Homo sapiens: one gene and its partner. The protein of the gene in region 1 interacts with the protein of each later gene in a pairwise test. Each region holds a gene or a part of one and is shown in the gene's direction. Other genes may lie near its edges.

The links.
Region 2: the proteins of ANXA4 (region 1) and NMT2 interact in a two-hybrid assay, tested with the Homo sapiens proteins (one large-scale study listed by BioGRID and IntAct).

What each region holds. Positions count from the first base shown.
Region 1 is NC_000002.12:69,821,954-69,825,029, forward strand, and holds part of ANXA4 (annexin A4), read left to right. Parts: intron 1-3,076. UniProt on the Homo sapiens protein: Calcium/phospholipid-binding protein which promotes membrane fusion and is involved in exocytosis.
Region 2 is NC_000010.11:15,109,624-15,113,460, reverse strand, and holds part of NMT2 (glycylpeptide N-tetradecanoyltransferase 2), read left to right. Parts: intron 1-497; coding exon 498-665; intron 666-1,674; exon of another isoform or gene 1,675-1,933; intron 1,934-3,621; coding exon 3,622-3,759; intron 3,760-3,837.

The sequences.
Region 1 (3,076 bases):
TGGAGGATATGGAGAGACTAGAACTCTTGTGCACTGTTGGTAGGAATATAAAGCGGTGCAGCCACTGTGAAAAACAGTCTGTTACGAAACTTTAAGCACCAAACTTCTTCAAAAAGTTTAATATAGACCAGGCATCGTGGCTCATGCCTGTAATCCCAGCACTTTGGGAGGCCGAGACAGGTGGATCACTTGAGCCCGGGAGTTCGAGACCAGCCTAGCCAACATAGTGAGACCCTGTCTCTACAAAATCAACAAAAATTAGCCGGGTGTGGTGGTGCACGCCTGTAGTCCCAGCTACTCAGGAGGCTGAGGTGGGATGATCACCTGAGGCTGGGGAGGTCGAGGCTGCAGTGAGCCATGACTGTACCACTTCAAGACTCCAGCCTGAGTAAAGACCCATCCCAAAAAAGAAAAAGAAAAAATTTTAACATAGAATGACCATATGAGCCAGCAATTCCACTCTCAGTTATATACTTAAATGAAAACAGGAACCCAAACAGCTAGTTGTACATCAACATAAACATTATTAACAATAGGCACAAGGTGGAAACAACCTAAATATCCATCAACAGATGACTGGATAAACAAAATGTATATACATACATAAAAAGCAATGATATTCAATGGTACGCTGTCATGAAAAAAAGGAATGACATTTTTGATACGTGAATGAACCTTGAAAATATACTACGTGCAATAAATCAGACACAAACGGACAAATATTGTATGATTCTGCTTTATGAAATATGTAGAATAGGTAGATTCATAGGGACAGAAAGTAGATTAGAGGTTACCAGCAATTTGGAGGGAGAGGAAAGAATGGGAGTTATTGGTTAGTGGGTACAGAGTTTCTGTTTGGGGTGATGAAAGGGTTTTAGAAATAGACAGTGATGATGGTTACATAACATTGTAAAAGTAACTAGTGCCACTTGAAAATGGTTAAAATGACAAATTATATATATATATTTTTTTACCACAAGAAAAAGTCTCTGAATTTGAATAAAATTGTTTAATGAAATGTGAAAAGAATAGATGAAGTATAATACTTCATCATAGCATTATTTATATTATTTACATGGCTTTATGTTATTTATATTTATATCAATAATATGGTATTATAGTATATAATTTATTATATATTGTTATTACTATTAATCAATAGGGAATAACAAATTATGGAAAATCCATACAATATAATACTATACCAACACTAAAATGATTGAGTACAAATATATTGATTGGCTTGGGAAGAAAACACTATAATCTAGTGTATATATGTCTGTATATATAAATATGTAAATATATGTGTGTATACACACACACACCACTAGAAAAGATTAAAAATAAAGAATACATTACTCATTCAATAATAGTTGTCAAAAGAAATGAAAAAAGCAGAATAGAAGCATAAAATATGTAAATAATAGAAAAAAATGACAAAAGATAAAAATAAAAGTTATAAAAATAAATAAACTCTCAGGTTAGGTAAAAATATAAAATCCAACTTCATGCTGTTTATAAGAAACAACTAAAATACAGTGACATGTAAAAAGCTTAAAGAAAAACACCAGGGAAAGAAAGAAAGCGGACATACAAGAAAGAAAGCGGAGATTATGCTATTAATAAAAAGAAGAATTTAGGGAGAAAAAGTATTAAATAGGAGAAAGTGGATCACGTTATACTGACAAAGGCAACAATTCACAGCAAAGATTAAACTGTTATGAAACTTTCAGTACCAAATTATATTGCATTCAAATGTATAAATAAGAAACTTGAGGCTCCAGAAGAAAACATATAATGGAATTAGTATGCTAGCGAGAGACTTTAATACATCCTATGCTTTGGCACATCAATGAGGCAAAGTATAAACAAGGATATATTAAGATTGAGCTTAACAGATACTTATTAAACTTTGAACCCTATATACAGAGATTCCATCTTTTCTAGTCCCCACGAATGACTAATAAAAATTAATCTAGGCCAGGTGCAGTGGCTCACACCTGTAATCCCAGCATTCTGGGAAGCTGAGGTGGGAGGATCACTTGAGCCCAGGAGTTCGAAGCTGCAGTGAGCTATGACCACACCACTGTTCTCCAGCCTGGGTGATAGAGCAAGACCCTGTCTCTAAAAATATAATAAAAATAAATAAATAAAATTAAAGATTAAAAAATTAATCAATTATTAGACCACAAAAATTTATATGCAGAAATTATAGAACCTTTCCGGAAGACTGTTTTGTAACCCATATCAAAATGTTTAAGAAAACAGGCTGGGTGCGGTGGCTCACACCTGTAATCCTAGTACTTTGGGAGGCCAAGGTGAGTGGATCACTTGAGGTCAGGACTTCAAGACCAGCCTGGCCAACATGGTGAAACCCTGTCTCTACTAAAAAAATAAAAATTAGCCAGGCGTGGTGGTGTGTACCTGTAGTGCCAGCTACGCAGGCAGCTGAGGCAGGAGAATCACTTGAACCTGGGAGGCGGAGGTCGCAGTGAGCCAGGATTGCACCATTGCACTCTAGCCTGGGCCACAGAACGAGACTCCGTCTCAGAAAAAAAAAAAAAAAAAGGTTTAAGAAAATGCATTTAGTCCAGTAATTCCCATTTTATGAAAATTTATCCAGAATAAATCATTAAGAAAATATACAAAAATGTAACTACAATATGCTTATTGAAGCAGTGTTTATAATAGTGAAAAATTGAAACAACGTAAATATCCAACAATAGGGAGAGGGAGGATGTGATCAAATAAATTATTTTACCTGCATACAATGGGATATTCTGTAACCATTAAATAATGTTGTAGAATAATATTTAACAAAATAGGGCCCTAGCACGGTTGCTCACGCCTGTAATCCCAGCACTTTTTGGGAGGCCAAGGCTGGCAGATCATGAGATCAGGAGATCAAGACCATCCTGGCTAACATGGTGAAACCCCATTTCTACTAAAAATACAAAAACAAAATTAGCCGGGCATGGTGGCAGGCGCCTGTAGTCCCAGCTACTCAGGAGGCTGACGCAGAAGAATGGCGTGAACCCGGGAGGCAGAGCTTGCAGTGAGTCAAGATGGCGCCACT
Region 2 (3,837 bases), on another chromosome or scaffold:
TCTCATCCTGTCGCCCAGGCTGGAGTGCAGTGACACAATCTTGGCTCACTGCAACCTCCGCCTCTGGGGTTCAAGCGATTCTCCAGCCTCAGCCTCCCAAGTAGCTGGGATTACAGGTGTGCGCCACCACACCTGGCTAAGTTTTCATATCTTTAGTAGAGATGGGGTTTCACCATGTTGGTCAGGCTGGTCTCGAACTCCTGACCTCATGATCCACACGCCTCATCCTCCCAAAGTGCTGGGATTACAGGCATGACATTCTGCTTCCTAAGAACTTTGTGCAAATCACCAATGGGCACTTAGGCTGAAGTCCCAACTCCAGGCCCTTCTTGGCCTCTACACAGCACAATATAAGGGGCCCCAAATTGGACTGCCGAGAAAGAAGTGTGACTTACTGCTTTTCGTTCTCTGGGGCAAGGGAGAGAACAGAGTTAGTGGAAATGCACGTATGCAGTTGGTTCAAGGAGATCTCTGTCTGACAGCACTTTTGCTCCTAGAGCCCCAACGGTAAACTGACTGATTTCCTGAGCTTCTATACGCTCCCCTCCACGGTGATGCACCACCCTGCTCACAAGAGCCTCAAAGCCGCCTACTCATTCTACAACATCCACACAGAGACGCCCCTGCTGGACCTCATGAGCGACGCGCTCATCCTGGCTAAATCGGTAAGCCACTCCTTCCTGTTCACGCCGTTTGGTTCTCCAAATGTCTGTGCCAAACTATAGAAGACATCTTACTGTGTTTTCTTCCACACAGGTGGAATTTATGCGAGACTTTAAAAAAACTATTGATCATCAGTCAAAGGAAGAATTTTGATAAGAGTTTCTTTTGAAACTTTAGAGGCTATTTTCATCATTAATTTTATGGCAGTTTAACAAAAAAGACAAAATGTACAAATTATAAATGTTTAATCCTTATATAAGAATATATAAGGCTGGGCATGGTGGCTCAGGCTTGTAATCCCAACACTTTGGGAGGCCGAGATGGGTGGATCACCTGAGGTTAGGAGTTTAAGACCAGCCTGGTTAATATGGTGAAACCTCGTCTCTACTAAAAATACAAAAGTTAGCCAGGCTTCGTGGTGTGTGCCTGTAATCCCAGCTACTCGGGAGGCTGAGGCAGGAGAATTGCTTGAACCTGGGAGGCAGAGGTTGCAATGGAGCTGAGATTGCACCACTGCACTCCAGCCTGGGTGACAGAAACTGTCTCAAAAAAAAAAAAAAAAAAAAAAAAAAAAAAAAAAATATATATATATATATATATATATATATATATATATATATATAAAGCCCATATCTTAGGAAGTAATATAAGGAAAATATTAATACATGAGTGAATATTTTTGTTGAGTGAATAACTAGCAGCAATTTTTTTATTCAACCAAATAGTCTCTGAATTTTAAAATTAAAGGAATGAAATTCAAAATTTAATTGTAGCCAGTCTACATGGTGAAACCCTGTCTCTACTAAAAATACAAAAATTAGCAGGGTGTGATAGCACACACCTGTAATCCCAGCTACTCGGGAGGCTGAGGCAAGAGGATTACTTGAACCTGGGAGTTGGCGGTTGCAGTGAGCCGAGATTGCACCATTGCATTCCAGCCTGGGCCACAGAGTGAGACCCTGTCTCAAATTAATTAATTAATTAAAATAAAATAAAATAAAAATCTCTTACCTGTGCCTTTGGATCCCCAAGTCAACATCATCCTCAGATTGTCTGCTTTTTTTCAACACTTCCCAAATATGGCCAGTAATTAGTTATTTAAGGTAAAAACCCTGAGAAATAAAAATAAAAAGTGCTTCTTCTATATCACATTTTGCATAGTATTATTGTCTGACATTTTAAAGAAATTTAATTTTTTACCATTAAAATTTTACATAAATATATTTCCCATTATCAGCCCAAAGCAAACATACTATTTTTTTATACTTTTTTTTTTTTTTTTTTTTTTGAGATGAGTCTTGCTGTGTTACCCAGGCTGGAGTGCAGTGGCACAGTCTCGGCTCACTGCAACCTCTGCTTCCCATGTTCAAGTGATTCTCTTGTCTCAGCCTCCAGAGTAGCTGGGACTATAGGTGTGTGCCACCACACCTGGCTAATTTTTGTATTTTTAGTAGAGACAGGGTTTCATCATATTGACCCGGCTGGTCTCGAACTCCTGACCTCAGGTGATCCACCTGCTGCGGCCTCCCAAAGTGCGGGGATTACAGGCGTGAGCCACCACGCCCGGCCTGCATACTATTTAAAGTCTTTACAACTTTGGTCCCTGGGCAATAGCTTCAGCCAAGGTAGGACTTAGAAAGGCTAATAATTAATAATCCTGGAGATGAAACCATCTTGACAACTGTTCCCTTCTAAAACAAGAACGAGGCTGGGTGCAGTGGCTCATGCCTGTAATCCCAGCACTTTGGAAGGCCAAGGCAGGTGGATCACTTGAGGTCGGAGTTCAAGACCAGCCTGGCCAACACGGTGAAACCCGGTCTCTACTAAAAATACAAAGAAATTAGCTGGGCATGGAGGTGCACACCTGTAATGCCAGCTACTAGGAAGTTTGAGGCAGGAGAATTGCTTAAATCTGGGAGGTGGAGGTTGCAGTGAGCCGACATCATGCCACTGTATTCCAGCCTGGATGACAGAGTGAGACTCCATCTCAAAAAAATTTAAAAATAAATAAATAAAACATAAATAAAATATTTTCTGAAATCTTCATAAGTAATTTTATGCCAGTGACAGCCATCATACTACATTTTTAACATTTTTGGGATTCAGCGTTTCTGAATTTTCATGCTGACTTCATTGGATTCACTATAGTTTGTTTGTTTTTTGAGACAGGCGCTCACTCTGTTGCTCAGGTTTAAGTGCACTGGCACAATCACAGCTCACTGCAGCCTCGACCTCTTCGGCTTATGCAATCCTGCCTCAGCCTCCTGTGTAGCTGGGTCCACAGGCACACACCACCATGCCGAGTCAATCTTTTTATTTTTGTAGAGACAATGTCCTGTACCTACACCTACACCTATACCTACAGCCTATGCCCAGGCTGGTTTCAAATTCCTGGGCTCCAGTGAGCCTCCCACCTTGGCCTCCCAAAGTGCTGGGATTACAGGCGTGAGCCACCACATCCAGCCACACTGCTAGTTTTATAAGACAATTTTCAACTGAATTCTTCCTCTTTTTAAAGAAAGAAAAAAAAAAAGTCTCACTCTGTCGCTCAGGCTGGAGTGCCGTGGCACAATCTCGGCTCACTGCCACCTCTACCTCCCAGGCTCAAGCAGTTCTCCTGCCTCAGCCTCCTGAGTAGCTGGGACTGCAGGTGTGCGCCACCACATCTGGCTTATTTTTGTTATTTTTAGTAGAGATGGGGTTTCGCCATGTTGGTCAGGCTGGTCTCGAACTCCTGACCTCAAGTGATCCACCCACCTCAGCCTACCAAAGTGCTGGGATTATAGGCATGAGCCACAGCATCCGGCCCTGAATTCTTAACCTATGCTATATATCACGGACGTTAAATCCTATTAGAAATGCATATTCGAGCTATTAGTAGAATTGTTAAACTGAGATATGTAATACAGAAAACACTAGTCCTTTGTTTTAAATTTTAAATCTTTTTTAAATTGGCAGAAAGGATTTGATGTATTCAATGCACTGGATTTGATGGAAAATAAGACATTCTTGGAAAAACTCAAGTTTGGTATAGGAGATGGCAATTTGCAGTATTACCTGTACAATTGGAGGTGTCCAGGTACAGATTCTGAAAAGGTAAGTGAAATGGATATAGCCCTTGTAAACTCAACAAATGTACCTAGACAATTTCATACTTGCTTCACTTAGACTTAA